Homo sapiens: one gene and its partners. The protein of the gene in region 3 interacts with the protein of the main gene of each other region in a pairwise test. Each region holds a gene or a part of one and is shown on either strand. Other genes may lie near its edges.

Region 1 (7,028 bases), about 140 Mb from region 3:
CATTTAAAGAACCACCACTGAAGCAAATTCCAAAACCACTATCAAGAGGCAAAGGCTACCAGAAAAGCTCTATTTCCTTAAAAAGTATTTGGTTGTAACAGAAGTTAAGATTTGGCTTTAAGACATAAAAAGCCCAAAAGAGTACCTCTGTGGACTATTTTTTCAGGCTAAGGCTACCGGGAGATTTAAGTTCATTCTCCATTAAGGAAATTAAAGAATAGTGCTTGGTATCATTGAGACAGAAGCAATTTGGGTGAGTACTGCTCTGTGGAACAGGGAAAGTATGGGAACAAGCTGCCCTTTTCCCAACAGTTTAGCAGATTCAGGACTCCTACCAGTCTCTGCTGCTCCAAAAGAAGATCTGCTTCTTCCTTCTCCTTTTTGTATAAGATCTCCATTTCCTGTAGCCTAGAAGTAAAAAAAAAAAAAAAAATTCAAGAATGCTATTAGTATTACATGTTTAAAAGAAGAAACAGTCATATGGGCTGCGTAACTGTGCATTACCTTTTCTCCATCTCTTGTTTCATATCAATTCCTTGTTTTTCCAGAAGCTCCCTCTGGGCAAATGTCCAGTCCACAGGCTCAGAGGGGGTCTCAGCAGAAGGAGTCTTCTCTCGCTCAGCTCGTGCTTGTTCCGGGTGGTTAAAGCGGAAAACATGGTTTTTACCCATGATGATACGGTTTCCTAGCACAAAACAGAAAAATAGGGTTAAGAAATAATTTTTTTAATATATAGTATCTATTTAACAACCTCACCCCTCCCTAATGTGAAAAGACAGCTTTCAGAGCTGTTGTTTTTACAAGAACAAAAATCCTAATGCTGACTATTACTTCAGCCTTTAAACAGCCAAAAATTAGAGTTGTCACAGAAGCCATGTGCACATTGCTGAAGATGGCAAACCTCTCCCAGTCTCACCTGAGCGCAGCTGAACAGGCTGGGACACCCTCTTGCCATTTACGTAGGTTTCTGAGCGCTCACAGGGCTCTAAGGTCACGATAACTAAGAGGAACAAACACAAACTAATGTTATCATTACAAACTATTGGAATCAAATAATGGAAAGCAGTTGCTTATCAGGATTTGCAGTAAGTAGAATAAATCCCTGCAATCAATCAAGTGGCTGAAGTTGTCTATACAGTAGTTCATTTTGGGGTACCAGAACTAGCCCCAATAGAAGAGGCTATCTGTGGCCATGGCTAACACAAGAACATTTAACTCTATTTGATAAACCTAAGAAGATGATAGGAAATATTAGTTTCAGGGATCTCTGACGGTTCAGTCAATAAAACTCAGAACCATCAGAAATTGTAAGGATGAGATATAGGTAATAACCAGAAACTAAAGACTGAGAAGCTAATATTTTGATAAGGGAATGAGTGACTTATATAACAGAAAAAAACCATTAAATTGTTGTTTTGTTAATAACCCAGGCAAAAATCAAGACTGACTTTTTCTTCCCTTTTAGATAAAAATAAATTCTGCTGGGTTGACTTAATGTCCTTCAAATCTCCTATTACCCAGGATATCTGCTATTTTCTTACTTTTCTATTAAATAATTAACATTCCAGACCAAGCCTAATTGCCTATGTCCTTCTCAGTTCTTGGCAGTAAAAAAGGGCTTCTTTTGTCCAAGCTATTTTCATGTAAAGCAGCCTTGTCCATCTCTGCATTCATAAGCAGCCCAGGTCTCTCCATTTTTCAGAATTAGATTGTATAAGAAAGTACTACTGATAGACAGAGAATACAAAGTCTTAAGGATTTCTCATAATATAAAATGAAAATGTTGTTGCTGAAGCTCCAGCCAGGAATGCTCACCTTCCCCGCTGTTGCTTCTCTCACTCCGGAAGATACAATGCTCTTCTTTAATGTGAGCCCCGCTCAGCACTATGTCCTGGCGCCGCTCAGCATCTGCTTGGCCAACCCTGAACACAAGAGAAAGTGTTTCCCAGGGAAATTCAGACACAGAAAGCACTACAAACAATGAACCTCTTTATTCCAAAGAATATCCTTTGGTACGTACAAAAAAGGTATTGCCTTGTTGCATCAGAAGCTTTCAACTATGAATTCTATCCTCACATATGATCAACCTCTCTACATCAGAATAAGAAACAAGGAGCACTGATATACCAATGTAACTCATACAGTATTATAAAGACATGAGTCAAATAAAATCCCTAAGGAATGTATATTTGTTAAAGGAAAAAAAAATTATTTAGGGTCTTCAGAGAAAAACTACATAGTAACTGGCTCCAGTGGCAAAAACACATTATTTGGAAAGAGAGCATAGTTTGTAACTATTTCAGACAAAAAATACAGCAAATCATTACGTTAATTTTTTCAACCCCTTCCCTTTAGTTATTCAATTATCTAAGAGGGGGAAAACACACGAAGTGACCAAAACAGGAAATAAATATACCTTGTAATTCCATCTTTGATGTAATAAAGTAGGCACTCAGACATTAGTGGGTCTTCATTGAGGTTAACAAGATGTGGGGTCTGAAAAAGATTACAGATGATCAATTTGGAGCAGGGCACCATGAGAGAGCTGTGGTAACAACAGGGGCCTACAAGAGGCCAGGCTTCTCCAACTCTCCACAGAGCCTAGAGAGGGATTTCTTTTTATCCCTAGTTGCGGTTCCATAATAAAGAGAAAACACTCTCTTCAGGCCTCACCAAACGGAACCAAGTGCATTCTATTTTATTTTAATTAATTAATTAATTTGAGACAGAGTCTCGCTCTGTCTAGAGTACAGCGGCATGATTTTGACTCACTGCAACCTCTGCCTTCCAGGTTCAAGTGATTCTCCTGCCTCAGCCTCTCAAGTAGCTGGGATTACAGGTGTTCGCCACCACGCCTGGCTAATTTTTCTATTTTTAGTGGAGGCAGGGTTTCACCATGTTGGCCAGGCTGGTCTCGAACTACTGACCTCAACTGACCCACCCTCCTTGGCCTCCCAAAGTGTTGGGACTATAGGAGTGAGCCACTGTGCCTGGCATTCCATTTTAAAACATGAGTTCTGGGATAAAAAAACAAGACCTAATTTTTGATAAGGTCAAAGCACAAGGAAAAAATGACAGGCCAATTCTCTGAACGGAATAATTATAATTTTTGTAAATGCCTGGGTAAAAATCTCAAGAAATATTTACTTTTATTAAAATGTCCCCATACCCCCCCACCACTTCCCACTATAATTTTTATCAGTTCTTCTGATCCCAGTTATTAATTTGTCTTTACCTTAAAAGATTTTAATTTATTAGTCTTTACCTTAAAGAAAAAAGTAAAATTACTGATATTCGATAAGATAAACATCTTCTAACAATCCTCTTCATCTAACTCTAATATTTCTAAAATCTTTTTAAAAAACCAACCTTCTTTAGTGAAAATAACCCACTGGAATCCAAAAATAAGTCACATGGTCTTGAGGCCAAAATCTACTCAAGAGAGTGCCAGCAAATGTGGAAGAATGAAAGAAGAGTCAGATGAGGGGGTAGGAAAAGGAACTATAAAAGATGGTTAAAGAGAAATCTGAAAAACCTCCACATCTTCTCAACTAGCATCCCCCTTTGTAGTTGAAGAACTTGACTGGTTTGAGAAAGTCAAAGCCCTTTGTGAGTAGCATTCTTTAAAGCACATCATAATTTGAAAAATGGAATCTCAGAAACAGGTCCTAAGACTGAGTTTGGATGTGGTCACTGGTATATCCCTTCCTTTCATGAAGAAGTCTAGAAAGCTAAAGCAAGATGGGTAAAATTAAAGTAAGAAAAAGCTTTGGAAGCAGAGATCTCACTTTGGAATTCCATGCAGTGTACATCTCAACATTTGTTCAAGTTATTTATGATTTATGTTAAATGCATAATATTTTCACTAGTTGTTATAATAAAAATTTTCCAGCCAGGCACAGTGGCTCATGCCTGTAATCCCAGCACTTCGAGAGGCTGAAGTGGGTGGATCACAAAGTCAAGAGATCAAGACCACCCTTGGCCAACATGGTGAAACCGTCTCTACTAAAAATACAAAACTTAGCTGGGCGTGGTGGCATGTGCCTGCAGTCCAGCTACTTGGGAGGCTGAGGCAGGAGAATCACTTGAACCCGGGAGGCGGAGGTTGCAGTGAGCCAAGATCACACCACTGCAGTCCAGCCTGGCGACAGAGTGAGACTCTGTCTCAAAAAAAAAAAAAAAAAAAAATTTCCTCACAGTCTTTAATACTGTAAGATGTTATAAAATACCTTTATTAGACATATGCATAGGCACAATTAAATTCCACCAAAACTGTAACTGCTAAAATCTATATAATCCTAAGTAACATATCTGAATGAATACATGTCTTACTGAAGGAAAAACTATTAAAACTGTGAAAACCACTAACCTTTCATAATATAAACATATAAAATACTTAACTGTTCTATTCTACAATATGCATCTAAAATGTCTTTACATCAGTCTTTTCTGTTGAAAATAACACATTGGAATTTGGGAAGAAAAAAAAAAAAAAGTTATGTGGCCAGGATAGAAAAACCTGACCAGAAGAATTGTAGCGAAAACCACAGGAATATTTCATATCACATAAAAGTACCAATTCAAAACTCACCACCCCTTGTATCCTAACTTAGAGAGATCATCAACAGAACCTATGAATAAAGATGTTTAAGTCTCCAATAGCCAATGTGAGGTCACTTGAAATAAAGGACAATTTACTAGTGGCATAAAATACATGCTTTGTACATCGATATATGTTCTCCTATTTTCTGATACATAAGCACACAAAATAACCATTTGATAGTCATTTTCTAGTATCCAACAAGACGTTGCAACTTAGTTTAAGAAAAAAACAAAAAAACCCTTACTACTCTAATTAGCTAAAAGCTACGTAACTACTTCATAACTATGATTATGTAAAAAGGAAGGTAACTATTGGAGACACTTTTTAAAAAATGAAGAAGGAAGCAGAGGAGTCTAGAAGGATAGGGACAGGAATTGCTTTACTTAGTACAATGGCTGTCTATAATACAAATTGCAGAAGCAAATGGAAGCAGTATTATTCTCCACAAACCTGTACAGCTGAAATTGGTTCCAAAAAGTTATAAAGCAGGGTAGACGACTTCTGTGGGAAAATCTACATGAAAGAGTAGCCAAAACTGAAAGTACGCTAGGTTAGGCTGGGAATTTAAGAGAAAGCAACAAATAAAGATGACTAAACAAACTGAATCATGGCCAAAGGTTACATATTGCCTTAGGTTTTTTCTTTTGTAAACAGTAAACAAGATAGGCATTTTAGAAATAGGCTGCCTTTGTACTATAAGACCATGCTCTAAGATGAAATCAGAAATATCTGAAATTAAGGCAAGTATCAAGATAATAAGGGGGAGAGTAGGTCCTGAAAGACATGAAGTGCCCCAGTAACAAAGACAAACAAAAAGTGTCTCTGTCTGATTAGGTTTCACAGCATTGTTTCCTACCTTTTTAGGTGAGAAAACCCCTAGGGTTCCTCCATCTTCCCGAATGGCAACTCCCATCTCAGCCAACAAAGCCTCTCTAGGAAAAAAACAGGTATATCAGAACACTAATACCAAAATGTCAATTAAATCAGTCTAATATGAATTGGAAAATAAAGCCTGCAAAGCAAAAACAACTGGCCATGTTTATAGCCAATAATGCAAACATAAAATAATGTGCTTATCTCATCATTAATGAGAAGTTATTTCTAAAAGCAACATCACATTCAAAATCAATGAAATCTTGCTTTGTTAAAGTTATATTCACTGAGATAAGAACTTTGTCTCAACTGACTTTGGGATAGTCAATAATTCATAAATGATATGCATATTAATATAAAAAAGAAAAGAAGAGGCTATTCCTTTTTTTTTTTTTTGAGACAGAGTCTTGCTGTCACCCAGGCTGCAGTGCAGTGGCACCATCTCGGCTCACTGCAAACTCTGCCTCCCAGGTTCACGCCATTCTCCTGCCTCAGCCTCCCGAGTAGCTGGGACTACAGGTGCCCACCACCATGCCCGGCTAATTTGTTTTGTATTTTTAGTAGAGATGGGGTTTCACCATGCTAGCCAGGATGGTCTCGATCTCCCGACCTCGTGATCTGCCCACCTCAGCCTCCCAAAGTGCTGGCATTACAGGCGTGAGCCACCGCGCCTGGCCAATATGTTCCATTTTTATGAATCCCTAGCAACATGTAATATGGTAACTAATAAACCTGTGACTCCCTAGATAATATTTAAATATGTAGATGTCATTTCAAAGCATAAATTCAACTGGCCATAAATCCCTGTCCATTTTTTTGGTTTCGTTTTGTGTTTTAGAAGGGCAGACTCTTTGATTTTAATTTATATTTTATCTTTTCTTACGATAAAGTAATCCACATCCCCTAGAAAACTTAGAAACATTTCCAGATTTTAACCTCCTGACCTCTCCATTCTGATGGCCTCTGTTTTACGAAGCTTCTCTTCCCAAGTTTCATTCAACTCAGCAATGATCTTCTCTGATTCCTAAGGAAGGAAGCGCACAGTTAAAGAGGCAAAGAGTCTTATAATTTAACATACCATGCTAGAAAAGCAAGAAGCAAATCATGCCCTTTGAGGATACAGGCCAGAATTAAATGTAAAGAGATTTTTCTTTTATTAATACATAAGATAAGAATCATAAAGATTAGACCTAAAACTAAATCAACCCCAAACAAATAAATCCTCCAAGTCTTTTTTTTTTTTGAGACGGAGTCTTCCTTTGTCACCAGGCTGCAGTGGCGCGATCTCAGATCACTGCAACCTCACCTCTGGGGATCAAGTGATTCTCCTGCCTCAGCCTCCCGAGCAGCTGGGACTACAGGCACGTGCCACCACGCCCAGTTAATTTTTGTATTTTTAGTAGAGACGGGGTTTCACCATGTTGGCCAGGATGGTCTCAAGCTCTTGACCTCGTGATCCACGTGGGCATGGTGGCAGGCGCCTGTAATCCCAGCTACTCAGGAGGCTGAGGAAGGAGAATGGCATGAACCCGGGAGGCAGAGCTTGCAGCGA
Region 2 (7,028 bases), on a different chromosome or scaffold from region 3:
GATAATAAGTGGGAAGAAAGTAGAAGCACCGTAGAGAAGGCAAACCCAAATGAAGTGTTAAAGGTCACAAGTGACACAGAAGATGTATCTCCTGGTACAGAAAATAAATAAGTGAAGCTTCATCTGAGTTTAATGATTTCAAACCATATTTCCAAGAAGTACCATCTCTGGTTCAGTCAGCTAATTATACAGACTCCTGGGAAAGCGAAACTGAGAAAGCAGTAGTAAACAAGCGGTAATCCTGACTTACGGCAGCCCGGGTATCCAGACTGAATAAAAGGTTCCAGTTCAATGAAAACTGCAGCATTTCATCCTTCCCAAGATGTACAGCTATTAAAATTGCCAGGGAGTGAACTGAAAGACTTCCCTTCTAGCTTACTTATTTCATCCAGGAACAATTTCAAAACCTTGAAGTCTCAGGCAGAAATATAATACCCGGTTCTTCTCTCCTTTAGGACCTATAAAATATCACTCTCTACTCCTGATTTATATTTGAGTGGTTTGTCTTGATAATTTCTGAAAAAGCTCATTATACTGTTATTAACCTAATTCAGGATTTTAAACATCTGCATCAACCTCAGAACTGGCCTTTCTAACAGAGAATTGTGAATAATGTAAAGGGCAATGAATTTAGAACTCTAGAACATTCTAGCTTTGGTTCTCACCTTAACCTGTGACACTGAGCCTCATAACATCTCAAATATCTCTCCTCCTCTTTACATCTCCATTACCATGACCTTCAATTTAGGCCTCATCATCTCCTTCCTCTCTGTCACCACTGTCCTCATTCAAGCCTCACCATCTCTTAATTTGACCATTGCTCAACAGCTGCCTTCAAATCTTGCCCACTCCAAGCCTTTACCCACCTAGTCTACAGAATAGATCCCAAAATGAAAATCTGAAACTACTTCAAAGGTTCTCCATTCCTTATAATTTAAAATCTACAAAACCTGAAATCTTTAACATAACTTATCGTGACCCTTTTGATCCAGCTTTTGACTACTTTCCTGGCCTCACTTCCTACTTCTGCCTGTAAATACACTCTCCACTCCAGCAACACTGAACTTCTTGCAGCTAACGTGAGATTGATTCCAAGTCCTCTTACCTCCTGCCCTTATGCATGCTGCTCCTTCTGGCTAGAATGGTTTTCCCCATCACTATAAACTTCTAATTAACCTTCAAGTTTCAGATTAAACACATCGTCTTGTGAAGCTTTTCCCAGTCTCTTCTCTCTAAATAGGCCTGAAATTTACATTTCAATTCTCTGTGACTCATGCACGTATCTCTAGATACACAATGCTCAAGGTGTTTTCCTGAGGCCCTTAAAGGCAACAGCTGTCTTATTCATATCTCTGGTCTCCTTTCATGGTGCCAGATTTAGCATGAATCAATAAAAGTGTTTATTTACAAAATAAGGGAAGCTTAACAAAATGATTAATAAAGTCCTCTCTACAAATAATAAACAGAAAGACAAACCCTTCCTATAAGTTAGCAAAAATGACTGGCTTTCCTTTTTACCTGAATATGACACTGAAGTAAATTAAGGGGTTCCTTCCATTTTTCCTTTACCCCTTCCTCCTCAACACAGTATCTGTGGTTAAATCTACCCACATTAAAGATTTAGGATGTAAGAGCCACTCTCAAAGAAGAAATGTATCCTGGGAGCTTTATAACACTGAAACAGAATAAAAGTCACTGTGCCAAAAGAAACCTGAGAAATAATCATTTCCGTTTATCTGTGTGTTAAAGGAGGCTACTAGAGAGAACTTTTGTCAGACACTGAAGTTATGAAAAAAACTGAGTCTACACTTCAGAGCTTTTCAGAACATTCTGCTATGTACTGAAAAGCAAGGAAAGTAAGAGCGGCAAACACAGCTAGAACATAGTAAAGGAACCAATACAACCCATAAAGTTATTTGATGTCCACTATTTCACTGGATCCCCCAAAGAAACTATGAGGCAGAGGGGACAGAGATTATTATCCGCATGTTATGGGTAAGGAAAATAAATTCAGAGAAGTTGACTAACTGGCCCAAGGTCATAACAGCTAAAAAATGTTAAAATTCACACCATCATCAACATGTCCTTAAACCTGGTCAAGTGCTCCAACAAAAACAAAACATTTTCAAATCAAAAAAACTGTTAGACATCCAGGGTAAGATTTGTAATCTAACAGTAGAAGGAATCAGAGGAACAGAAGTAGTCTCCTTCTCCCCTGCCCTGGTTGCTAGCTCCACAGAGAAAACCAGTCTTGCATCACCCCTCCCACCTCCCAAATCCTCACAGGTCTTTGTAGCGCTTCTGGAGCTGGGCCTGCGCTTTCAGATCTTCCTCTTGGAGCTGCTTAGCCACCTGGAGATCATGCTGGACCAAACGGTTCCGCTGAACGTTCGATGCCAAATGATGCTCAACTGGAACAAAAAGATTGAGGACAGGAATGAATAATGTCTTGGTTTGTTAGTAATAAATGCCATAATAATCTTAAGAGCTTTACCATAACAACAGCTTTGCATCCATCACTTCATTTTATTGTCTCAACAACAATATATAATAAAGAGCAAGGAATTATTATCCCCACTTTTCCATTAAGTAAAAAGAGGATCAAAAAGATTAAATAATTTGCCTTTGGTCACACGGCAACAAAGTGGCAGTGCCAGGACATCTACACAAATATTCTAAAGCCAGGGCCAATGCTCTTTCTACTACTACATGTTGTCACTCTATTTATTAACCGCATTTTTCAAAATGTCAATTTTATATTGATATGTGAATTCACAAATCATATATTCACAAGTATGTACTTTAATATAACATGCATAGCTTAGATTTACTTTTCATCACCACATGGAAAAAAAGATTCAGAAAAATTCACAATGTGATCTCATTTATACCACAGTTGCCTGGGAAAACTGTTCAAGTCCCTATCCTAGGAGCAAGAATAGATTCCTTCTACGCACCCCAGATAAATCTACAACCATTGTGTCCCTCCTACAACAAGAGGCTAGGAAAAAGGTTCAAACCTCTCTTTTTCCTCCTACAGACGCAGCAGTCTACTAATTCCTGGCAGCCTATCTTACTTAACATGCCCGAAACTTCACTGATCACCCAGGCATCATTTGCCTAAAGAAATCCTTCAGGATGTATGGATGGTGAAGCCAAGTGACTGTGCTCTCTCCCCACCTAAGCCCTAAGAAACCAGCCTCAAGCTACCACTAAAAAAAGAAAACTGAAGGAGCATAAATGAGAGGTATTACTCACTCTCTTGTTCCTGCAGGCTGTGAGCCAGGGTGTGGTCCTCCAGGACAGCAAAATCTCGGCATACTAGAGTAGATGGAGGAAAAACAGACAGGAAGGCTCATTAGTAATACTTTAACATACAAAGGAAAGGATTTTTTTTTTTTACTTTAAAAAAAATCAATTCTAATATTTCAGAATGACACACTTTATAATTCTCAATGCATAAAATAGTGACTAGTTAAGTATGCAGTCTTTAGTCACAAAAATCTATAGTGCCTGCTTAGTGCCAAGCACAGGGTGTCACAAAATACTGGTTAGCCTTGGCCCCTGGCCTGAGGTGAGAACATTTACAGAATCAGATTCCAGAGGTCTAGAAATTCCAATCCACTTCTATAAATGGAGGGTTAAGTGCTGCTGAAATAACAGACGTATCAGTCATGCTTTGCATATTGCTACTGAGAGAGAACTGAGTTACTGCATAATTAGAGGTGTTAAAAGAAATCTAATCTATGCTTCCCTGTGGTTCAGACGATCCTCTCCCAGCAATTTATGTCTACCCTGGCGTCTTTCAAGAAAAAATATATTTTCACTAGTCCCTCAGGTAGGGGCAGAGCTCTACTTTAAAAATTCTTAATTTCTTAAACATTCTTCAGTGGGTCAATCCCCAGGGACATGAGTTAGAACTAGGTCTCTAGGTCCCTCTAAACCTTGGGCTGCCCCAAAATAATCTACAAACCAAAAGAAAATGGGAACCCTGAAGGAAACCAGGAATCTGCCCCAACTCTGCCTCCACCTGAAGAGCCAGGCAAGGGCATTTCCTGACCTGTCTTCTCAGAAGCAAAATGGGAAGAAATGGTCTTGAAGAAATGGTTTGGGGTAAACAATGGTATCCATGTTTACCCCAAGCTGCAATTTAAACTCCTGCTTCGTAAACATACAAACAGACAAAACATGAAGGATTCATCATGTAAAGTGCTGTTTTAAGGACGTGTAGTTTAGGTGATATGTTCTCACTCTATTCCAAGCATGTAATTCATGTTAAAAAAAGGAAATTCCCCAAAGCCTCAGATTACTGCAATTGAGTAGGACTCATGAAACATTCCCCAGGGCTTAGGAAAAGTGATAGATTTCTTTCCGAAGCTTTGGATTTGCCTATGAGGACACTTAACTGAAACAGAATGAAAAACGTTCCTTTGCCGTTCTTTGCACTTATGTATGTTCACATATACACTCAACATTAGTTGTGTCCTTCACGACTGAGGGATAATGCCACAAAAAGGGAGGGAGATCTTGGGGAGGTCAAGATTATTTTGAAATGGTTTTATAATGGAGGAATAATTCTTGCCCAAGAACTATATTCAACTGGATACAACCTGCTTAATCCTCGCTCAAACATAACAGCAAAACCAGTAATTCGAACAGAAAGCCCTGTTCTTTTTCATCAGCTTTTCATATTCTCAACCGATTCTAATATCTTGAAGCCCAGGTCCTAGTTACCTTATGTTTCACAGAATAAAAGTAGTTTCAAGATGAGCTAGATAACACCCTCATTTAATAAGTGAGGAAACTGAAAGCCAGAAGGAAGAAGGGGTTTTCTAAGGCTGTACAGAGTTCACTGGTGACAGGGCTTGGGGGTCAACATCTAAGCCAGCAAGAGCTCAAGAGCTCCTTCCCCTTCCCTGACACAATGATGGCCCTCCTTCCCTCCAGGTAAATCATGGTAAGAATAGACAGAAAGAAAATATTCTACATTAACCATCGCATATTCTCTAAAACACTTCAATTAATTAATATCTAATTTTTAAATGGGTAAGACATACACGGACTTAATTTACAAAAATTAATGAATTAGCTAAAATAAATATAATCAAATCTTGTGTAAAGAATGTTATTTTAATGTATTGACCTATCATTTAAAACACCTTTATTATACTGGAAAAGCTTGTGCTTATATATTAAAAGTCAGTCTTAATTTTAGATTAATTATGATTAGATCAAATTTAAGATTACTCTTAATGATTTTCAAATTATGGGTGGCAATCTATTATTAGGTCAAAAAATCAATTTACTAAGCCTGAGAAAGGCATTTTAAAAGTCAATAGTCTAGAGAATAACAGAGGACAGTTGGCTCTCATAGCCCTGAGTTTTGGATTCATGGATTAAATCAACCACAAATAAAAAATATTCAGGAAAAAAAAATGTGGCTGTACTGAATACATACAGACATTTTTTCTTATCATTGTTTCCTAAATGAACGGTATTAGGTAGTATAAGTAATCTACAGACAATGTGAAGTATACAGTAGAATATGTATGAATTATATGCAAATACTACCCCATTTTATATTAGGGGCTGAAGTATCCATAGATTTTTAGTATCCATGTGAGGTCTTGGAACCACCTCTACACCCCACCCCACAAATACGAAGGGACTAGTATAAATCACACACAGTACAGGAAACTAGTTTGGGGAAACTTTTCCCGTATTATATATAAACATCACAGAAATATATACATACAGAGATGATAGGTACTAGGTCAAAATGTAAAACACACATCATTCTATAGATTACAAAAAGCTTAAAAGCCACTTCAATTTATGTTATTAGGTCAGAACGTTACGCCAAAAATATGTTTTCTATGTTTCTAATACCATGCTAACTAAAATTAAAAATTATGAAATTATTACATTTTTCCATGTGGAGAATCATGTGAAGAACTACAATAATTTTAAAAATATTTCTTAACTTCAGTCAGCAGAACATTAAACATTAAAATATAGTTTGTAGATAGATATACCTATGGTTAAAAAAAATTTTTTTAATAATATGGCACTGACACAAACTTAACTCCAAACAGTAGTTCTCTCTCCAGAGAGACGAAGAGGGGCATGAGTGCCTTAGCTGCATGAGCCATTCTGCTTCAAAAGCAAAAAGAGAAAAGATACACAATAAGGCAAAATATTAACATTTGATGTGGGTGGTAGGTTCATGGGTTTTTCTATTTCCTGTGCTTTTTAAATGTCTTACATATTACATTTTAAGTTCTATAATTAAATTCACTTATTTCATGTTGTCAACAGCACATATTGCTAAACCATGAACATGAAGATATGGTTTGACACATTATAACAGGTGTGAGAAATTTCCGAATTGCTGATTACCTTGATGACTCCTCATAATGATTTCTTACTATCTCAACAGCAAGACTGAAGTATATTCTATTATTGCAATTTGTCCCTGAATCTGCAGAAGCTGAACTAGTACCCAAAAGATATGAGGAGGGCCTGAGCTAGAAGGGGATCTGGAAGATTTTCAATGATTATGAGGAAGTACATGAACACATACACACAGAGAGTTGTATTGTCAAATACACTGACTTTGCCCTTCGGAGGTTACTAGGAGTTTCCAAACATATAATCTCATTTATACTGAAATATTACTTGCCCAATATATAATTTCTTCTGAACCCACTCTAATTTTTTTCAAGATTTGCCTCTGTATTCCCTCCATCAGTATTCTAGCACAACCTGGAAAACAATCACATATTCAGTCAACTTTGTAAATCAGTAACCAGATTGAGAATTACTGAAACTATTTCACAGCCAGGCCACGCTCAGAGCATGAAGAGAACTTTTCTCCTTTTCTAACCTCCTCTGCCTTCGATGTAAACAGCATAAACAGCCTACTGAGGATAAACGGCATACACTCATCTTCCCACCTTTCTCTGTGGGCACATTTAAGGTGAACCACCTTTCACCCTCCCATTTCTCAAACTTTTTGCCTCCCATGT
Region 3 (7,028 bases):
ACTCAACTGCTTCCTTTCTGCAGGTGAATGGAGGACTGCTTTCAAGACTCACCAAGGGAGGCTGCATGCAGGAGGCAGTTCCCATCTCCAGTAGTTGCCAAAGGAAGCAGCCTCTGAGAGGTGGGATCCACACTCACCCACCAGTTCAAACGCCCTGTAGAAACAAGATAGTGGAGGAAAAGGAGATTATCCATGAAGCCCTTCCACCTTCCTATTTCTGAAACAGACTCCAAAGCAGCCTCCTCTAGGAGGCCTACCCAGAATAAAACCATCACTTGATTACTCTTTATATCTTCCTCACTTATATCTAGTCAGTCAGAATCTTGTGAGCACAATTGGTTAGATCAGTGAGTAGGGTCAATTTTGTCCCAAAGGGACACTGGCAATGACTGAAGATATGTTTGCATGTCACAACTGGTAGCAGGATGCTACTGGTATCTAATGGGTAGAGGCCAGGGATGCTGCTAACCATGATATAATGCACAAGGCAGCTTGCAAAACAAAGAATTATCTAGACCAAAATGTCAATAGTGCCAAGGTTGAGAAACCCTGGGTTAAATGACGAGGCCAAGGACATAAGTTGAAACTGTTGACTGCTTGGACTGGCCCTGATTCCTTCCCTCCACTCAGGAGACCAGTATGTATCACAGCAACAAAGCTCAGCAAAAATCCATCATGAACAAAACAAAAACAACTCAAAGCATGTATTTAAGGTGTTTTATGAGTATCATCTGCATATATGACAGCATGTCATCACGTGTGGGGTGTGACTTTAAAGGAATGAGCAATAAGATAAAGTACATAAAATATCCAAGAAAATAAGTCTTAATTCCATGCAGTCATCCCACAATTGCCAACCCATTATTTACATGAGGAAAATATCTTATGAGTGATGCATAAGTTTTCTTGAACTACTGTGGAGCATAGTTTTTGAACTACTGAATGAAAAACTGGCTTATAAACTCCCCAGACCAGATAATTTACCAACTTAAAAAAAAATTACAAATAGATGTATATGGTTAATATAGAAGGTTACAAAATGAAAAATAAAAGCTTCCTTTCCATGCCCTCATCTAACTCCAGTTCTTATCCCACACAAGCATTTTAATGCCTGATTAGCTTTTCCAAAATTCCCAGCTGCCTCACCCTATGATAAGAATTAATTTTAACAATAATTTAAGATAAACACAATTACAAACGTAAATACATTTGGGGGGATAGGTTCACTACTGTGCATCATCTACAGCATTGGTCATTTCTGTTCACAAGGGTGTTCCAGGGCCAATTATAATTAGTTGTATTTTTTTCATGTATTGATTTCGAGGTATTGATTCCTAGGCCTTTTCACATGTGTATCTGGTTTCTCTTCCATCAACCAGGAAATTCCCAGAGTAAAGTATCTAATCTGTATCCATTCTTTGACAGCACAAGTTTATCCCACTGACTCCTGACTTTGCAATCAGATAACACACTTAAACTGGAAGCTAGCGATCAAGTCCAGCCCCTCCACAAGGCTGCCTGTAGGTGGAGAGTAGAGGGAAGAGTGTGGGAGAGGAAGCACTCACTGACCTGCCTGTTCCAAGGCAACCAGCATGGACTGCTCAATGAGGTCTCTCTCTATGAAGCTGCGGAAGTCTTCATTGTATACAGTGAGATCTGGAAGCTGGAAGGCACAGATGGGCATTTCCAGGGGGTGCTCATTGCTCCCCCCACCCCCACCATTGGAGGAGACATGGGACCGGGCCAGGGAAACAATGCTGGAGCTGGCGTGGGAGATGCCCCTAGACAGGCGTTTTTCTGCAATGAGAAATGGAGTCACCTTAGAACATACACAGCCCACTTGGAGAACTCTACACTGATGTGGTGATAGTTACCTCTCAACAGGGTTTACAGTCAGAGAAAAACTAAGTCTAACTGACTACTGAATTTCAGAACCCTTTTTCTGAAGCCAAATACAATTGGAGAAATAGAGACAGTATTTTTGTAGGCACTCACATTAGCACCAAATTATTCATTCCTCTTTCTGCCCTTGTTTGGAATTTGCCTGATCTTCCCCTCCCTCTGACTGTCTTCCTCCACTTCCATATTTCCCAGTGTGATAGGGACCCATTCATTTAGCAATTTGGTCATTGTTTGGTGGGAGGAGAGGGAATAAGGGAAGTGAGGTTTCACTAGACTAGAGTTAGTCAAATAACCTCTCTGGTAATTCTCAGGGTCTTGGGAAATACCTTTTCTAAAGGGTATTTTCATTCTAGAAAGATTATAAAAGAAATCCATTATAGAAAAGAAAATCCTTTGGGAGGCCAAGGCAGGTGGATCACCTGAGGTCAGGTGTTCAAGAGCAGCCTGACCAACGTGGTGAAACACTGTCTCTACTAAAAATACAAAAATTAGCCGGGCATGGTGGTGTGCCCCTATAATCCCAGCTACTCGGGAGGCTGAGGTGGGAGAATTGCTTGAACCTGGGAGGCGGAGGCTGCAGTGAGCCAAGATTGTGCCACTGCACTCCTGCCTGACAACAGAGCAAGACCCCGTTTCAAAAAAAAAAAAAAAAGACAATCAACAACAAATCTTACACATTTGGGAACTTTCTTCCTACATCAATAACATTAATTTATATTGCTTACTACAACTACTCTCAATACCCATATTTATCAGAAATTTATAGGGACAGTCAATTCTTAACAGTCTATAGAGAACAATAATGTAGATAGTACCCCACATCATTTCATTTGTTTTGAATACATGACACTTGTAATTCCCAAGCAGATATTCCACTGTGATTATAATTTGCTCAATGTAGTATTACAGTTCATTTGTATGGCTTCAATTATGTAATGATTTAATGATGATCCAAAGGGGGCAAAATTTCAAAAGCATGTTGGGCTGTTCTTAATACAACATTTGCCAGATATGATACACAAAATAAACTGAGTTGTCTAAAGTTATCTTATAGTGATGTTATTTTTCAAATATTTTTTAGTTTTGTTTGTTTTTGTTCTTTGAGACAGAGTCTCGCTCTGTCGCTCAGGCTGGAGTGCAGTGCTGCAGTCTCGGCTCACTGCAACCTCTGCCTCCCAGGTTCAAGGGATTCTCCTGCCTCAGCCTTCTGAGTAGCTAGGATTACAGGCACACGCCACCACACCCAGCTAATTTTTTTTTTTATTTTAGCAGAGACGGGGTTTCTCCACATTGGTCAGGCTGTTCTCCTCAAACTCCTGGCCTCAGGTGATCTGCCAGCCTTGGCCTCCCAAAGTGCTGGGATTACAGGCGTGAGCCACCACACCCACCTTAAAAATATTTTTTAGGTATTCGTAGGCTGAGCATGGTGGCTCACACCTGTAATCCCAAAACTTTGGGAAGCCAAGGTAGAAGGATCACTTGAGCCCAGGAATTCGAGACCACCTGGGCAACAGAGTGAGACCTAATTTCTACAAAGAATCAAAAATTTAGCTAGGTGAGGTGGTGCGTGCCCATGCTCCCAGCTACTTGGGAGGCTGAGGCAGTAGGATCCCTTGAGCCTAGGAGGTTTAGGCTGTAGTGAGCTGTGTTCCACCAGCCTCACTCCAGCCTTGGAGGACAGAGCAAGACCCTGCCTCAAAAACAGTACCATGTGCCTATGGTAAAAAATCAATATACCATCAAAAGGTATAAAATGATTTCACAAGGAAGTCTTCTTATCATTCAAAATTCCTGATCCCTTCCCCAGAGGCAAACTTTTGTATCCTTCTAGAAATTTTTATGCATACAGAAGCATATACAGGTTTTGGCCGGGCACGATGGCTCACGCCTGTAATCCCAACACTTTGGGAGGCCGAGGCAGGTGGATCACAAGGTCAGGAGATCGACACCATCCTGGCTAATACGGTGAAACCCCATCTCCACTAAAAATGCATGTACAGCTTTTAAAATCATCTTTTAAAACGCAAATGAGAGTATACTACATACATTGCATTGTGTCTTACCTTTTTGAAAAAAATTATATATTTTTTTATATGGAGTCTCACTCCGTCACCCAGGCTGGAGAGCAGTGGTGCAATCTAAGAGGTTTACTACAACCTCTGCCTCCTGGGCTTAAGCAAGTCTCCTGCCTCAGCCTCCCAAGTAGCTGGGATTACAGGTGTGCACCACCATGCCCAGCTAATTTTTGTAATTTTAGCAGAGACAGGGTTTCACCATGTAGGCCAGGCTGGTCTCGAACTCCTGACCTCAGGTGATCCACCAGCCTTGGTCTCCAAAAGTGCTGGGATTACAGGTGTGAGCCATCATGCCCAGCCCCCTTCTGAATAGATTTTAGAAATTTTTCCAAAACAGTACACCAAGTTCTGCCTAATTCTTTCTAATGATTGCAGAGTATTCCACAACATGGATGATTACAATTTACTTAACCATTCCTTTACTAATGGACATTAAATGTTTTCAGGGCCAGGTGCAGTGGCTCACACCTGTAATCCCAGCACTTTGGGGGGCCAAGTCAGATGGATTGCCTCAAGAAAAAAAAAAAGTTTCAAGATTTAATTATTGTAAAATAATGCTGCTGTGAATATCCTTATATGCTGCATTTATGTATTTCTTTTTTTAATTTTTATTCATTTATTTATTTTTTTTTTTGTAGACAGAGTCTCACTGTGTCACCCAGGCTGGAGTGCAGTGGTGTAATCTCAGTTCACTGCAACCTCCACCTCCCAAGTTCAAGCAATTCTCCTGCCTCAGCCTCCCAAGTAGCTGGGATTATAGGCATGTACCACCACGCCCAGCTAATGTTTGTATTTTTAATAGAGATGGGGTTTTACCATGTTGGCCAGACTGGTCTCGAACTCCTGACCTCAGGTGATCCACCCACCTCGACCTCCCAAAGTGCTGGGATTACAGGTGTGAGCCACTGCACCTGGCCTTATGTATTTATTTAGAGAATACTTATGTGCACATACACATATATGATAAATTGCTAGATATGAAATTGCTAAGTCAGAGTACATATGCATTTTAATTTTGATAGATATTGGCAAATATTAACAAATTACCCCCCAAAGAGGTAATGACTCTTTCAATTCTACCTTTATGTGAACTTTATATCAACAAGGAGATTGTTATCCTCCTTCCTCTATTTCTTTCACAGTATCTGAGGAAGGCTTTTATACAGGATAACACTAAAGATGCAGAGACGCAGTGAGGGACTGCAGCACCTGGGCAGACTGAGGCCACCTCAGTCTGGGTTTGGCTGGGAGAAGGGGAAGAAATGGAATCACCTCCAATGGATCACTAGACTTTATGACTCCATTTAACAATCCCCTCCCTTCCTACTCCATATACGGAAACATTCCAGTCACCCCAGTACCTTGAACGATGTCATCCTGCCGCTGGAGGATGGGTCGGGGAGGGCGAGTAGGCTCTCTGTCAGAAAACCCTTTTTCAGGGGTCCTGGAGCCACCACTCCCCTCACTAAAGGATGGGGGTAGGTTTCCAGCATGGACTTGACGTAGCTGTTCAAAATCACTGAGGGCGGCATTCACATCCCAATTCTTTCCTGTCAGGAGACAAAGCAAAAAGCAAACTGTGCAACCATAGTATAGAGACACAAAGATCACACTAACTATCCTATCAAAACCAGTATGCAAATACGCATGCACATAATCATTCTTCTTTTCCTTACCCTGCTTTAATTTTCTTTATAACACTTCAATCTAACTTATCAAATGTCTTTACTTACTTATTTGTTGTCTATTTCCTAAGTAAGTGCCATGAAAATAGAAACTTTGTCCCTCTGAACTAAAAGAGCCCTTAAAGATCTAGTAACCGAAAATTAAAACTTCCTTTTACAGATAAAGTCTAGAGAAGTAAATTATTTGCCCAAAGTCACAGCTAGTTCACACCAGACCCAGCAGGACTCAGGCCCAGGTCTCCTAATTCTGAGATCCAAAGAGGTTCTTAGCCTACATGTACTCTAGTGTGTCCTAAACCACTAAACCTGCATATAAGATCATGGGCTTGTGCATTTTCTAGTGAAAGAGTTCATAGCTGTCATCAGCTTTTCAAAGGAAACAGTGTTTCCCCCAAATTTAAGAATCACCATTCTACTAAAGAAATGACCTTAAATGATAAGATTTGTCATAATGGATTTTTCTGATGCTTTCTCCAGCTAAATTATTCAACAAATATGCATTGTATAATTGCTCACATTTCTTTCTGTTGTATTCCATCTACTACCACCTTAATTCAATTCCTATCACCTACTGTCCTACCTCCGATCCATTCCAAAGAATCCCATGAGATTAATCTTTCTAAAGCACAGTTGTGATCATTTTAGTTCCATAATCGAGATTTTTAATGGCTTACCACTGCCTACAGAATAAAACTCAGGCTCTTTGGCTTGATACTCAAGGCTTTGTATGTCCTGGCCTACTTTTCTGGCCTCTTCTCTGTGCTTCAATTTCCTTATCCGTGAAAATGCAGATGATAGTAGCAGTGCCTACCTCATAGAGCTGTTATGAAGATTAGATGAGTTGAAAGCACTTAGAATAGTGGTTGGTTTTACTCACAATTTTACGTCTAAATCATTACTGATGATTTTACTTCTAAATCATTACATTAGCCAATTGTTCTGACTCCCTTTGCTCACTCTGTTCCAGTCATCACTGACCTTGCTGTTCCTAGAACATGCTAAGTCCACTCTCACTCTAGGGCCTTTCCACTGACTATTCCCTCTACCTAGAAGGCTCTTTCCCCAATATATCCACACAGACAACTCCTCATTAGCTTTAGGTATTTGCTTAAACATCACATTGTTAGTAAGGCCTACCCTGACTTAAAAATCACAACCCACTTCATCATTCCCTTTACTCTTCTCCATAGCACTTAACAGTTTATAATATACTTTATAATTTACTTAGTTATCACATTTGTTGTTTATTGACCCTCTCTCCTGCTAGAACATGAAGGCAGGTATTTTTGTTTGTTTTGTTTTGTTGGAGCATCTAGAACAGTACCTGGCACACAGTAGTCACTCAATAAATATTTGTTGAATTAAT
Region 4 (7,028 bases), on a different chromosome or scaffold from region 3:
CCTCCGCCTCCTGGGTTCAAGTGATTCTCCTGCCTCAGCCTCCCGAGTAGCTGGGATTACAGGCATGCACCACCACGTCCGACTAATTTTGTATTTTTAGTACAGACGGGGTTTCTCCATGTTGGTCAGGCTGGTCTTGAACTCCCGACCTAAGGTAATCTGCCCGCCTTGGCCTCCCAAAGTGCTGAGATTACAGGCGTGAGCCACCACGCCCGGCTGAGGATCTGCATTTTAAGAAAGCTCTACAAGTGATGCACAGGCTGTTTGTGACCTCTAATCTATGCCAGTTATTTTATTTATTTGTTTACTTTTATTTTCTTTCAGCTGACAAAATGATGTATATTATGAATAATAAATTTCAGTCTACATTATTTACAAAAACAACAATAATTTATAATGTTTACTTAAACACTGGCTTTCAACAAAACACTTAGAAACACCTAGCGTCTTGTCCCCGAGAGTTTGCATCCGAAATTTGGACTGCTTAATTTATTTTTTGGCATATATATACACCAAATTAAATGAAAAAAATATATATATATATACTTAACTTTTAGGTTCAGGCGTACACATGCAGGTTTGTTATATAGGTAAACTCGTGTCATGGGGGTTTGGTGTACAGATTACTTTATCACTTGGGTACTAAATTTTGCACTGAATTGTTGTTTTTTTCTGATCTTCTCCCTCCTCCCATCCTTAACCCTCAAGTAGGCTCTGGTGTCTGTTGTTCTCCTTTTTGTGTCCATATGTTCTCATCATTTAGCTCCCACTTACAAATGAGAACATGCAGTGTTTGGTTTTCCATTCCTGTGCTAGTTTGCCAAGGATAATGACCTCCATCTCCATCCATGTTCCTGCAAAGGTCATGATCTCATTCTTTTTGATGTGTGCCAGTTATTTGTTACATGTATTTTGTCCTAACTTTTTTCCTGAATAGTATCTCCAACCAAGTAATAATATGTTTGTGGAGAGAGAGTTTTTTATCAGATCTGCAGCTATTTAAATATTGATGCATATAAGTGTATCTTCCCCCCAAATTAATTATATCATATATAACCTGAGATTTATTATTGCCAGTAGGAATTCTAACTAAGGAGTCACTACTTCCTTCTATTCAAACTTTTCAATAATTCTTCATCTCTATCTTCAATAAAGCAAGAATAATATAGGATTTCATTACATAACAAGGAATTCAGGTCAGAGGCAATGGGTAATATTTACTTAGTTGTTATTGAGGGAAATTATTACCCTTTAAACAATGAGGTTGCACAATAGTAGATCCTGGATGGACAATGTAAACCCCATCATTGAGAAATTATATCAACTTAAGAGAATACATTGCATTTTTTGTGAATAGTGCAAATATCTACTGTTGCACTGCTTTACTTAAAGAGGAGTTCCCGAAAGAAGACTGGTGGTTATTCTTAGGATTAGGTGATAGAGTCAGAAGGTCTTACCTGACACTTAGGGAGATTTGGAAGCTGGTGTGGGCTTTGGGTTCATCACAAGTTTGAGGCAGAGTCTGCACTCCTAAAGCAAAGGGGAACTCTTCCTTTTCTGGGAGAATATTGTATTTCAAGGATGTCTATAGAACATCAAAGACAAAATCAGTTTTTTGCCCTTTCCCAGAATTCCTGTCCACGTCCCTAACCCTTTCTCTGATCTGTCCCATTGTTTTCTGAGTTAGGACTTCTCAGAGAGAACAGCTGCTGTCCTCATCTGTCCTGTCCTCACCTGCCCAAGAGTCTCACCTGGAGGTAGACACATCCTTCTCCTGTCACTTTCATGCTGTATTCCCCAGGCAGCTCTGGCAATGAGACCTGCTGCAGTAACAGGCGGTTGTTGTTGTCCACTTGGAATTTGCTGGAAAATGTCCCTGAAGACTGGATAGTCACCTGTGCAGCCTTCCCAGTCCTGGTAAATGTGGCTGCTCCATATTTGGACAGAGCATGGAGAGCCACCACTGTGTCCTGTTAGAGACAGATGAGTGAGAGAACCCATTGGGCATTATAAGGCTTTGAGGGCTGAGATATTTTTCAAAGACCCATGTGAGGGACTTTGATTTCCTACTTCCCTCACTACTTAAATATAGGAGCTGTAATTTCAAGATTGATTATAATCTTTAGATAGTTGAAGAACCATAACATTCACATATCTACCTTGGACTGTATGCCCTACATGTTTATTTTATTTATCAGAAAATTGATCCTTTTCTCTCTGTAAGTATATGTGGGACATGGAATGTGGAAAACATGTGAATGGCAATCAGTTATTGGCATCAGCTATTTGCTAACATGTCTTTCTTGACAACTATGCTCATATCTGCCACCACTCAAGCAAAGTTCAGTCTGGCTCTCTCCCATATTAAACTTTGCTCAGTTGCTGAGGTCAGTGTCCTGGAGAGAACCCAAGGTTCTTTGCAGCCATGAGCAGAGTCATGCTTCAGTTTCTCCAAAAGAAATAAAAGATGAGTATTATAATTATCTTCTGGATTTAATGACATTTTTATTTGGCTTTCCCTTTTTATTGGATGATTTCCTGTTCCCAGTGAATGTCTGCTGGTATGTATCCTCAACAACATTAAACCTGCTTGGCCTCCTTCAAATAATATGTTTCTAATAAATGAATGATAACCTTTAACAAAATTACTTAGTTTTTTTCATTCATATGATAAAAGATTAATACAATGGAAATAGGATGGAATGCCATTTTGTCACATTTTTTCCGTTTTAGGGTATATAAGCAAACATCCGAATTCTCTGAAGATAAAACTTTCTGCTGTGTACATATCAATGAATTGTTCAGATACATGGTTATATAGCTAGATTTAGGAGGTTGGATGAATAAAGACAGTTCTTTATGCTCCTGATGAATAAATGTTTGTGTATTAAGAGGTGAATAGGGGGCTGGACGCAGTGGCTCACACCTATAATCCTAGCACTTTGTGAGGCCAAGGCGGATGGATTGCCTGAGCTCAGGACTTCGAGATCAGCCTGGGCAACATGGCAAAACCTCGTCTCTACTAAAAATACAAAAATTAGCCAGGCATGATTGCACATGACTGTAATCCTAGATACTTGGGAGGCTGAGGCACTAGAATCGCTTGAACCTGGGAGATGGAGGTTGCAGTGAGCCGAGATTGCACCACTGCATTCCAGCCTAGGTGACAGAGCAAGACTCTGTCTTAAAAAAAAAAAAAAAAAAAAGGTGAATAGGGGAAGCACAAAATGTGTAGTTTTGAGAAAAGCCTATTAAAGGGGACCTAAGAATGGAGAGATTTGCGAGGAGAGGTTGTTGGATTTTGAGTAGAGTTCCTTTGAACAGTTTGAAAGAGACCCTAGAGCTTTCAGGAGAATGGCAGGAGACATCTCCTTCATTCTGCTGGTGCTCCACTGCTGCTTGAGGAAGGCAGTGTTGTTATGGGAAATAGGAGATGGATAATAACACAGCGATGGGGTGCCGGGATTCTGAGCATTTCCTTTTGGCCCTCTTTGACTTTGATTTGCTTTTATTTCCATTATCCTTGGATACTGAAAACTTTTCCTCATTTCAAGTTACTGTCATCTGTATTTTTTTCTTCTTGGATGTGTTTGTTTCTTTTTCATTCAAATCTTTTGCTACCTGAAGGTGAAATAAAAGGTTTTGGCAAATCACCAACCTGGGTGGAGGAGAAACCGCCCTGGGCATTCTGCTGCTTCGTGATCCACTTCACGATGTTGGTTGCAGAGGTCAGGTCCTCCGAGGTTGGGGCTGGCTGGGCCGTGAGATAAGCGAGGAGCACATAGGATGTCATCTCCACCTCAGCAGAGGGAGCCTGGGGTTCGTAAAAATGCCCCACTGGTGCCTTGGGTTTCTGAGGGCGCTCCCAATGGACAGAGTTGTCTTAAAGATGAGAAAAAGATATTTATAAGTGCCTACATATTTATATTTAATTCAAGGTGAAAGTACCCAAGCCAGTGCTGAAATGAGAATTGCATGCCCATTATAATCCCCTGTACTGTATGTAGATGCTTTTCCCTTCATGTAAATCTGAATTTGGTGTGTTTTAGCCCAGCTAAGGCAGATATTGATGCTGGAGTCAGAAGCCTATGCCTATCTATGTTTTCAAATCGTTGCTATAGTCGGGTTGGTGGGAGAAAGAAATGGCACAGCAGTTGTCTCATTGAGTCTGGCTATTTCCTATTTATGATGTTATATTAGACTATAGCTGGAGTTTGTTACATTTCCTATAAAGTGTGTCTTTATCAGTTTCTTGTGAGGATCACAGATCACATGAAATAGTAGAGTTTCTACTCATTAAATTGAAAAAAAAAATACAGTAATCCTTGAAATACCAAAGGCTGACATGGATGTGAAACAATGGGAACCAATATACACTGCTGTGGGAAGCCAACTGCTCTTTGGCAATATTCAGCAATGGGGAAGATGTGCTTAGCCCACTAATCAGTCATTATGCTTCTCAAAGCATAATTTGGAGAAACACAGATGCACAAGAAAACAGGCACATGAGTATTCATTGCAGCATTTTTTTTAATAGCAAAACATAAAAAAAATCCATGAGGAGAAACTCGATGTGTAAATTATGACTAATTTATAGACTGTAATATATTATGCAGCAGTGAAAATTAATGAGCTGACTCTGCACATACTTGTATAGGGGTCTTCATCAACATAGTGTTGAACTTAGAAAATAAAAAGCAGACAAACAAAAAACTAAGCTGCTGAAATATTCAAAAATGTTTCTCTTGTTTCTTGAATAAGAGAGAAATAAAAATCTTGTTTCTCTCAAGATGAAACACATGTGAAGATTCTAAATATTAGTTAGGGATACATATGCAGCAAAAATATAAGGAAATCCATGGAATTGTAACGACAAATTCAGGATAATGATTGCCTCTGGAGGTGGTAGTGATACACAAGGGATTTATTTTTCCCATGTCGGTAATTTTCTATTTCTTAATCTATGAGAGAGTTGTACAGTGTTTTCTAGTTATAGCTTATGCCCTTTTGTATATCTATTATAAAATATTTCTCAATACATTTTAAGAAGAATTAATGGCTGTCAAAGGAAAAAGGTAGACTGTTTTAATGGACATCTTGTGATTTGCATTTTATTTTCTATTTCTTCAACCGCTCATATAGACCATGGTATATGTAGAAGTACTGTGTGAATATGAGTAGATTGGTCAACATTATTGGTCTTATGAAATGGGCTTAAAATACCAGAATTCATTCAAGGAGTTACTTCCATGATTATTTTCTTATGTTTAAGGTTATATAATGTACCAGGTAAGGGTTGGGCATATATTGAGAACTGATATGTTAATTGTAATAACTAGTACTTTTATAGGATTTGCTATGTGACATGTACTCTACTAAGTGTTTTACGTGTACCAATTCATTTATTACAACAGCTCTGTGAGGTAAATACTATTATTATCCCCATTTTACTGATGAAGGAACTGAAACACAAGGAAGTTAATGACTTTCCCAAGCTCACATAGGTAGCACATTTTGGAGCTAGTCTCCAGAGAATGCTCTTCTTACCAGCATACTATAGAGATGGTCCCTGACTTACAATGGTCCCACTTAAGATTTTTTAGACTTTACAATGAGTTTGTCAGGATATAACCCCATCGTAATTGAGAAGCATCTGCACGGCCTCTTGTCTTCTGATTTCTGATTTGATTAAGAAATCCTAGATTTTATAAGATGCAATATGGACAAAATATATATGATATATAGAAAAGAAGAGAGGAGACAGGGATCACAGGAGGTAGGAGTGAGGGATTTTTGCCATGCAGTTCTTGATACAGAGGATGGGCCAGGAGAAGGATCTCAGGTGTGCTCTCACCTTTCTTCACAGCTTCCTCATTAAGTGACTTGAGTACTTCCTTCCTCTTGTCCTGGTTACCTGCCAGGGCAAAAGCATAGGCCAGCAGTGCTTTGGTATATACATGGCTGCCATGGTCCCCTTCTTGTGCTGTCTTCCAGGCTGACTCCAGGCAAAACAGGGCATTGCGGACAACAGGGTGCTGTGAAGGCAGAACAAGAAGGGAACTAAGCTATGTAAACAGGCATATTAGCATTCCCAGGCAAATACACGGATCACAGCACAGAAGTTTTTCAAACGCATTTTTCCAACGATTCCTCATTCTTATCAATAGATATAATATTATTTTTATCTGTTATTCTCACATTCAAAAGATACATCTTTAAGATTCTTTTTTGAGTGGTGGTGGTAAATAGCCTAGGGGAATTACTGGGAAAATTTAAACCTTTCTTAATGGGCTGACCAAATTCTCTGTAGATCTGGGAAGCACTGGCATTGCATAGAAAGAAAGCTGATGCTTTGCTTTTAATAGGATAGTATTTCAGACAGCAGGTCAGCAGTTTCATTGCATCCAGAACTCTCCTTCAGCAGAGGAATGGGGTGGTACCTACAGTGACTGTGAGAGGAATCTCCAGAAGGGCGATGGTGATATAGGCGGAGAGGGTCACTTCATCTTCTACTCCTCCCTGTGAATACGAGAGAGAGATCTGAATAATTCAACTTCTGAGAATGCTATTGATTAGTTCTTTCTATTCTGCTGTGTCATGGAATTCATCCTTACCCATATCCATCCCTATAGGGCAAAGTATCACAATCAACTTTTGTTCTATCCCCTCTTTTTTGGTGCCATCCAGGTTTTATTTTCCTCTGAGGCTTTCCCTTAGAATTTTTCACATTATCACTTCCTATCCTCATCCTTGCAGATATCATAATGGACAAATCAAAACTAGCTCCAGAATGATTCACCTTTATGGCATTGTTGAGCAGTGACCCAGAGCTCCTGAAACAGCCATTGTCCTTCTGCCTCTGGGAGAGCCATATGAGGGCTTGGGTAATGTGTGCTTCATCGATGAAGATGTAGGCTCGAGCTTGGGCAAAAGTCTTCAGAACAAAGGCTGTGAGCCTGACCAGGGAGGAAGCAATCATGATGTTTATGTTGTCAAAATGGTTTTATAACCACTTCACAGCAACAGGC

Evidence for each region.
Region 1: the proteins of OTUD7B (region 3) and KIF1B interact in binary tests that used the Homo sapiens proteins (3 or more experiments, as listed by UniProt).
Region 2: the proteins of OTUD7B (region 3) and CCDC50 interact in binary tests that used the Homo sapiens proteins (3 or more experiments, as listed by UniProt).
Region 4: the proteins of OTUD7B (region 3) and A2M interact in binary tests that used the Homo sapiens proteins (3 or more experiments, as listed by UniProt).

Annotation. Positions count from the first base shown.
Region 1 is NC_000001.11:10,290,554-10,297,581, reverse strand, and holds part of KIF1B (kinesin-like protein KIF1B), read right to left. Parts: intron 6,501-7,028; coding exon 6,421-6,500; intron 5,536-6,420; coding exon 5,460-5,535; intron 2,497-5,459; coding exon 2,417-2,496; intron 1,923-2,416; coding exon 1,816-1,922; intron 1,001-1,815; coding exon 917-1,000; intron 686-916; coding exon 505-685; intron 409-504; coding exon 336-408; intron 1-335. UniProt on the Homo sapiens protein: Has a plus-end-directed microtubule motor activity and functions as a motor for transport of vesicles and organelles along microtubules.
Region 2 is NC_000003.12:191,353,381-191,360,408, reverse strand, and holds part of CCDC50 (coiled-coil domain-containing protein 50 long isoform), read right to left. Parts: intron 3,322-7,028; coding exon 3,259-3,321; intron 2,412-3,258; coding exon 2,285-2,411; intron 1-2,284.
Region 3 is NC_000001.11:149,965,725-149,972,752, forward strand, and holds part of OTUD7B (OTU domain-containing protein 7B), read right to left. Parts: intron 5,528-7,028; coding exon 5,339-5,527; intron 1,798-5,338; coding exon 1,570-1,797; intron 155-1,569; coding exon 53-154; intron 1-52. UniProt on the Homo sapiens protein: Negative regulator of the non-canonical NF-kappa-B pathway that acts by mediating deubiquitination of TRAF3, an inhibitor of the NF-kappa-B pathway, thereby acting as a negative regulator of B-cell responses.
Region 4 is NC_000012.12:9,070,902-9,077,929, forward strand, and holds part of A2M (alpha-2-macroglobulin isoform a precursor), read right to left. Parts: intron 6,957-7,028; coding exon 6,800-6,956; intron 6,520-6,799; coding exon 6,445-6,519; intron 6,036-6,444; coding exon 5,855-6,035; intron 3,883-5,854; coding exon 3,659-3,882; intron 1,971-3,658; coding exon 1,752-1,970; intron 1,586-1,751; coding exon 1,458-1,585; intron 1-1,457. UniProt on the Homo sapiens protein: Is able to inhibit all four classes of proteinases by a unique 'trapping' mechanism. This protein has a peptide stretch, called the 'bait region' which contains specific cleavage sites for different proteinases.